Homo sapiens: one gene and its partner. The protein of the gene in region 2 purifies or fractionates together with the protein of the main gene of each other region. This does not show direct contact. Each region holds a gene or a part of one and is shown on either strand. Other genes may lie near its edges. The genes, in order: HAVCR2 and RNPEP.

Region 1 (3,816 bases), on a different chromosome or scaffold from region 2:
TATAATCCTATTTGAAATGAATTCTACTCCGTACTTGTCACAATAATTAATGGAGAGACAGACAAAATTTACTGAACACCCAGGAATCAACTTTAGGATGGCCACATTTTTTCATCTAGATAATGAACCGTACTGTTTTATGAAATAGAGACTTCTGCCAGGAAGTCCTACATTAAATATGTGCTTTGTTTTTTTCACAGGACCCTAATGAGTTCTACAAACATCTAGCAATATTGATAAGACTCAGGCATTATTTATTTATTTATTTATTTAGACACAGAATTTCACTCTGTCACCCAGGCTGGAGTGCAGTGGCATAATCTCAGCTCACCGCAACCTCGGCCTCCCTGGTTCAAGCAATTCTCATCCCTCATCCTCCCAAGTAGCTGGGACTACATGCATGCACCACCACGCCCAGCTAATTTTTGTATTTTTAGTAGAGACGAGGCCATGTTGACCAGGCTGGTTGTGAACTCCTGACCTCAGGTGATCTGCCCACCTCAGCCTCCCAAAATGCTGGGATTACAGGTGTGAACGACCAGGCTTGGCCTCAGGCATTATATTCTAATTAGATTTTAAAAGACAACAAAAATTCATTTCCTTCTTTTTTGTTTTTTTGAGACAGTCTCACTCTGTTGCCCAGGCTGGAGTGCAGTGGCACAATCTCAACTCACTGCAACCTCCATGTTCTTTTTCTTTTTTTTCTTTTTGCGAGACAGAATCTCACTCTATCACCCAGGCTGGAGTGCAGTAGCATGATCTCTGCTCACTGCAACCTCCATCTCCTGAGTTCAAGCGATTCTCCTGCCTCAGCCTCCCTGGTAGCTGGGACTACAGGGGCACACCACCACACACAGCTAATTTTTGTATTTTTAGTAGAGACGGGGTTTCGCCATGTTGGCCAGGCTAGTCTCGAACTCCTGACCTCAAGTGATCCACCCGCCTCGGCCTCCCAAAGTGCTGGGATTACAGGCGTGAGCCACCGTGCCGTGCCCAGCCTCCATTTTCTTAAATAAGTTTTGCATTTACTCATGAGAAGGGAGACAGGGTTGCCAACAAATGAAAATAATCACTGTGGTCACAATGTAATAGGAGCCAGGCCTTGTGCTAAATAAACTCTTTCAGTGAAGAAGCTCATTTTAGAGATACTTAGAAGCACTTACTTTAGAACTACGCTTCTAAAGTAGAGACTGTTAGTCCCATTGCACAGATGAAGAAACTGAAAATTAGGGAAGTGAAGTGACTAACCCAAGGTCACATGACTTAGCAAATGACAAAATGGCCTTCCAATTTAGGTCTGCATAGCCTTAAATGCACATTCTTAATTATACTGCCTTCACCAGCCCTTACCTCAGTGCTGTCATTATGAAGAGGGTCACGTTGCCCAGCCACCCACTCACCATCTTTCCTTCCTGTTCATTTGTTTATTTCTTCATCTGCTGATCCATTCCATGAATATGCACTATGCCCTTACTCTAGGCACAGGGGACAGAGCAGGAAACAAGAGGGGCACAGGCCCTGACCTCATGAACACTGAATTCTAAAAATAAGTACATTGCCAGCTTTTGGAAAACTAAGCATGCTTACTCATTTTTATGGCTGAGTCAGAGATGTTGAAACTTCTTAAATGTCACTGTCACCTTCTGGAAGCCTTAATGTGTATAAAGGGTTTGACTAAATGCTGGTTTAGCAAACTATAGTTTAAATATTATAAAGGCATAGCCTCAGCCTAAAATTATTGAAGAAAAAAAGATTATGTTCCAATTACTTTTGCCCTAATTACCAGAAAAAAATTTAAAATATAAAAACCACAGGCCTGGTGCAGTGGCTCACACCTGTAATCCCAGCACTTTGGGAGGCCGAGGGCAGGCAGATCACGAGGTCAGGAGATCGAGACCATCCTGGCCAATATGGTGAAACCCCATCTCTACTAAAATACAAAAAATTAGCCGGGCGTGGTGGTGTACGCCTGTAGTCCCAGCTACTCAGGAGGCTGAGGCAGTGGAATCGCTTGAACCCAGGAGGTGGAGGTTGCAGTGAGCCGAGATCACACCATTGCACTCCAGCCTGGTGACAGAGCAAGACTCCATATCAAAAAAATAAAAAAAAGACCCTCATCAGTACAACTGCTAAGTAAACATGAATCTTAAGTGCACATAAGATTTTAAATGTAAATCCAGTTTCAGACTCCTTATAATTATTTTTCTTGATAAAAATGGTAAAACTAACTTTTTAAAAACTTCATTTTGCTATGAAAATGATCAGTAAAATCAAGCACTGTTGTGTCATTACAGCTTTTTTTCACACAGATTTGGCCACCAACCAAGATGGATGGGACAGTTGAAGGGAGTGGCAATGTTCTTTCTGGAGAAACCAAGATTTGCCTGGTGGGGCAGGTAGCAGCGGAGGTGAGATGTGATGGCCTTAACAGTGTATAAATTTAGTAGTTACCATCTATTTGGTACTTATTAGGTGCCAGACATGGTGCTTAGCACCATATACATACAATCTCATTTAATCCTCAACCACAATAAGTAGGTACTACTATTTTCCCCATTTTTCAGATGAAGATACTGAGTCTGAGAGAGCCACTTTGCCCAAGATCACACAGCTATTAATTGGGAAAGCTAGGATTTAAAGCAGATCTACTCTAGAGCTGAGGACTCACCTGTGACCCAGTCCTTACTCCTTCAGGTAGAAGACAAGTTGCATTTGTTCTGTGTTCAAATTCCAGGCCCTTGGATCTCTTACTTTTAAAGGCTCTACTCCATTTTTTTTTTTTTTTTTTCTGAGAAAGGGTCTCGCTCTGTTGCCCAGGTTTGGAGTACAGTGGCACCAACTCGGCTCAGTGAATCCTCAACCTCCTGAGTTCAAGCAATCTTCCTGCCTCAGCCCTGCCAAGTAGCTGGGACTACAGGCACATGCCACCATGCCCGGCTATTTTTTTTTTTTTTTTTTTTTTTGGGATGGAATCTCGCTCTGTTTTCCAGGCTTCAGGACAGTGGTGAGATCTCGGTTCACTCCTCCCAGGCTCAGACAATTCTCCTGCCTCAGCCTCCTGAGTAGCTGGAATTATAGGCATGCACCACCATGACCAGCTAATTTTTGTATTTTTAGTAGAGACAGGGGTTTCACCATCTTGGCCAGGCTGGCTTAAACTCCTGACCTCAGGTGATCCATCTGCCTTGGCCTCCCAAAGTGCTGGGATTACAGGTGTGAGCCACTGCACTCAGCCTAATTTTTTGTATTCTTAGTAGAGATGGGGTTTTGCCATGTTGCCCAGGCTGGTCTTGAACTCCTGAGCTCCAGTGATCTGCCTGCCTTGGCCTCCCATAGTGCTGGGATTACACATGTGAGCCACTGTGCCCAGCCCCATTTTTATATTAAATGCTCCCACATCCCACATTTAGAGTTGGTTTGCCAGCAGCCAATTTACATAATGTTACATATTATAGACAAACCATTAAATATTCATTCATTTCAATTTTTTATTTTATTTTCCTATTTAGGAGCTACTGACCTATTTTTGGTTGTTTCAATATTTTTTCTCAGTCAGGCCCTTGAGAAGCTCAGAGGTTCGAGGTATTATTCCTATATTCCCATTTTTGTTGCCCTAGAGGGAAGGAACTAACAAACAAAAACTAAAGGGAAGGCTGGGCGTGGTGGCTTACACCTGTAATCCCAGCGCTTTGGGAGGCCGAGGCAGAGGGATCACCTGAGGTTAGGAGTTCGAGACCAGCATGGCCACCATGGTGAAACCCCGTCTCTAATAAAAATACAAAAATTAGCGGGGCGTGGTGGCGCGCGTCTGTAATC
Region 2 (3,814 bases):
TGCTTCAGCCTCCCAAGTAACTGGAACTACAGGTGTGAGCCACCATGCCTGGCTAATTTTTGCATCTATCTTTTTTTTCAGTAGAGATGGGGTTTCACCATGTTGGCCATGCTGGTCTCAAACTTCTGACCTCAAGTGATTTGCCTGCCTCAGCCTCCCAAAGTGTTGAGATTACAGGCGTGAGCCACCACGCCTGGCTTTTTTTTTTTTTTTTTTTTTTTTTTGGTAGAGATGAAGTCCTGCTATGTTGGCCAGGGTGGTCTCAAACTCCTGGGCTCAAGCGATCCTCTCGCCTCAGCCTCCCAAAGTGCTGGGATTACAGGCATGAGCCACCGTGCCCAGCCCATTTTTTTTTCTTAGTGATGGAAAAGATAATGGGAATGCTGCTGCAGATAGAGAATTCAGCTGCTTCACGGAGAACTGGAATGCTATTCCTTTTTCATTTTCCTGCACCAGCTGTGCCATTTTGCCATATTTTTTTTCATATGCATGTGTAGGACACCCACCTCCTTCACCCTGGCTGTTCCCTGAGGACAGGAAAATACTGTCATTCTCTGGGCCTCCCCCAGTGACCTTTCCTGAACAAACACAGTGAGGACCTCTGGTGGAAGAAATTTAATAGTCACTCAATCCGTAACTTAATTTTTGCTTGAAAACTTTATTAAAATAAGGATTAAACCTGAAAAAAGAACAATCAGAATGCCAGCCCTTTGCATAAAATCAGCAAGAAAAAGGACAGAAAGAGAAAAAAGAAGAGCATCAGTCCTCTCCACTTCTTCCCAGAGACTTAGGTGGGGAGGAGAATACCCGCTGCCCTGCAGTGCCTGCAGCCTGTAGCGGGGAGAGCTGTGGGCAGGTTCTCTGTCTCGGGGCTCAGTGGGCTATAGAGAAGTAAGTTCCCACCAGAGCAGAGGCCCAAGAGTCACAGATACCTAAGCTAGAGAATAGATTATCCTGAGGGGATATAAACTCCAGGAAGTTGATCAGGGAACAGGAATTTGGGAACAAACAATTATTCTGAAAGCCTGGAGAGCCTGAAGAGGCAGGGGCCATGCACACGAGCCTCTAACTGCCCTTGGGTGCCACGATCTGCTGGACATAGTTGACAACATTGCTGTGGAGCTGGGAGGCGGTGGATGCAAAAGTCTCCTTGGCGAGGGTCTGGGCCACCTCACTGCCACCCATCATTGCGTGGTACAGCGGAAGTGTATACTTCTGCTTCCCCTGCAAGAAACACACATACACATGCCTAAGAAGCTTGCCTGGTGGATCTGTCCAGCCCTGCTGCCCCCAGTGCCAGTCTAACAGCAGCCATGGCTAGGTGCTAAAAGGGATGTGGGCATCACAGCTGGAATGAGGAGCTTCTCATCAGAAGTGCTCTAATTCAGGCATCTTCTTGGGCGCCAGAGATCCATGGAGATGGATCTCAATACGCGTCCCAATCCATACTAACATGGGGACGTCTACAGTCAACAAAATGAATGAGTTGGGTGGACACAATGGGATTCCAGACTTCTGGAAAGGTGTAGGTGGTGAGCCACCACGTGAATAGCAGATATCAGCAGCTGCGGCACATAAAGCTCACAGCCGCATACGGTCCAGCTGCAGTCAAGCAAAGGAAAACCCACAGGTCAACCCACAGGTCAAATTCACACAAATATAAGCCAGCGACATCACAAGTTCCTAAAATCCAGAGCCTTGAGGAAGCCATCAAAGGGCTCAGAATATCCCCGAACAGGCAGGCAGCCCTGACTTTATGCAGAGCAATGCTTCGTCTCCGGTCCAGCCCCTCCCTGCTCCGGAATCTGATGACATTCAGTTCATCCTGAGAGCCCGGGGCCTTTCCCCAACAGGGCAACTTTCACATAGTGACAGAGGGTCTGGCTGCTGTCCCGATCATGCCCAAGTCACAGGGCAGCAGGGACCTATCCTCCAAGCCTTTGTTCCTCTTGCTCCGCCTCTGGCCCCTTTCCCTCTTGTGTTTCCCACATGACACTGTCACCCTCTTTCCCGCCTCTGCGTTGGCTCTGGCCAGCTTTTTTCCCTGGGGTCTCACCAGCTGAATTGCAGAAAGCACTGCAAGCCTGCAGGCCTCCTCTTGTCCCTAGGGCAATGCCTTCAAAGCCACACTAGTAAAGAGGCTGAGTGGTAGGGTCCTCAGGTCATTTGCCCCTCCCTCTGTGCCTCAGATGAGTCCTAGATGAGCCCTGCCCACATGATTACTTCACATATGGCCGAGTGGGTCCCAGTGTGCTTTCGGGAACAGCGAGGCAGGGGTCACCCACCTGGTTATGCAGGAACTCCTTCACTTTCCAGAAATCTTCCTGGTGGTCGTTCTTAAGGACGATTTGGCCCCATCGCAGCCGGAGCTCTGCATTCCGGGCATTTGAGATACTTGGGTATGTGTCTCCAAGTTTTTTCACATTCCCTGGAGAAGAGAAAGAAATGGTTTGTGGCTGGTCACGGTGGGTCACACCTGTAATACTAGAATTTTGGGAGGCTGAGGTGGGCGGATCACTTGAGGTCAGGAATGTGAGACCAGCCTGGCCAATATGGCGAAACCCCATCTCTACTAAAAATACCAAACAAAACTGGCCGGGTGTGGTGGCGCACGCCTGTAATCCCAGCTACTTGGAGGCTGAGGTGCTAGAATCAAGAATCACTTGAACTCAGAAGGTGGAGGTTGCTGTGAGCCAATAGCACCACGGCACTCCAGCCTGGTCGACAGAGCAAGATTAAAGCAGACATATTCCCCCAATATCTGTCCCATTTTTTCTCCTACCACTCATCTGCTAAAAGTCATCTTGGCTCTAACTTTTTTTTAACCCCTTGGTGAATATTATGTTGACTGAGCAGCCACAAAGCATTAGAGGTTGAGAGCTCTGGATGACTGGGTTCTGTGCGAACTGTTTGTACCTCAAGTTCATTCTGTCACCTGGGTATTAACATCACACCGCCTACTTCCCAGAGGAGTTGTGGGAATTAAATGACTTAATAGACACAAAAGCCTTACAAGAGTCGCCTGCAGGAGCTTCGGACTTGAGCAATGCCAGGCTTTGTGACTTTGTCCTTGAGGTGCTTGTAAGTAGAACCCATAACCTCCCGATGGCACATTCCTTGTGGAGTGCCAGCCTCCCTAGTGTACGTGGCAGTCCCCTAACCCATAACCTCCCGGTGGCACATTCCTTGTGGAGTGCCAGCCTCCCTAGTGTACGTGGCAGTTCCCTAGGGGCAAGCATCACTACTTTTTGTGAGCCTCCCTCTAGCCCCTGACATAAAGCTGTGCACACAAGGAGCCCTGGTTCACCATTTTTTCTTACCAGGAGGGAGAGGGGATTTCTGGAGGATCTTATCCAGGAAGTAGACCAGCTGGTAGGTCTTCCAGGGAGAGATGGCCACGGCTTCAATGGCCTTCATGTCCAGCTCCTCGGCTGCCCACAGTTGGGCTAGCTCTTCAGCAGGCTTCATGAGTGAGTCCCCAGGGGAGAGATCAGGGAGGTACGGGGGCCAGCCGGGGGTATTCAGCCATCGATCAAACTCAAAACCTGTTTGGGAGGAGAGAAGACACTATCAGAATTCTCTGGCCAGGTTACGGTCAACTGGTTTAAGCAACTCCCAGAGACCTCAAGTTTCTCCTCTCTCCATCCCAAACTCTTTCCCCAGCATTTAACATTACTTTCCCATGTAACTATTCGCTCCAGCAGGGTCCTAGTTATAACGACATCTAGAGACTGTGCCGTTTCGACCGTGAAAGTGCTTTTCGCTCCAAATTAGCACTGTGTTGTCAGAGCCAAGTTGGTGGATGCTCTATTCA

The links.
Region 1: the proteins of RNPEP (region 2) and HAVCR2 purify together in Homo sapiens (co-immunoprecipitation; one large-scale study listed by IntAct). This does not show direct contact.

The regions. Positions count from the first base shown.
Region 1 is NC_000005.10:157,099,002-157,102,817, forward strand, and holds part of HAVCR2 (hepatitis A virus cellular receptor 2 precursor), read right to left. Parts: intron 1-3,816. UniProt on the Homo sapiens protein: Cell surface receptor implicated in modulating innate and adaptive immune responses. Generally accepted to have an inhibiting function.
Region 2 is NC_000001.11:202,002,968-202,006,781, reverse strand, and holds the end of RNPEP (aminopeptidase B), read right to left. Parts: intron 3,659-3,814; exon of another isoform or gene 3,546-3,658; coding exon 3,321-3,545; intron 2,429-3,320; coding exon 2,286-2,428; intron 1,225-2,285; coding exon 1,066-1,224; 3' UTR 639-1,065; downstream 1-638. UniProt on the Homo sapiens protein: Exopeptidase which selectively removes arginine and/or lysine residues from the N-terminus of several peptide substrates including Arg(0)-Leu-enkephalin, Arg(0)-Met-enkephalin and Arg(-1)-Lys(0)-somatostatin-14.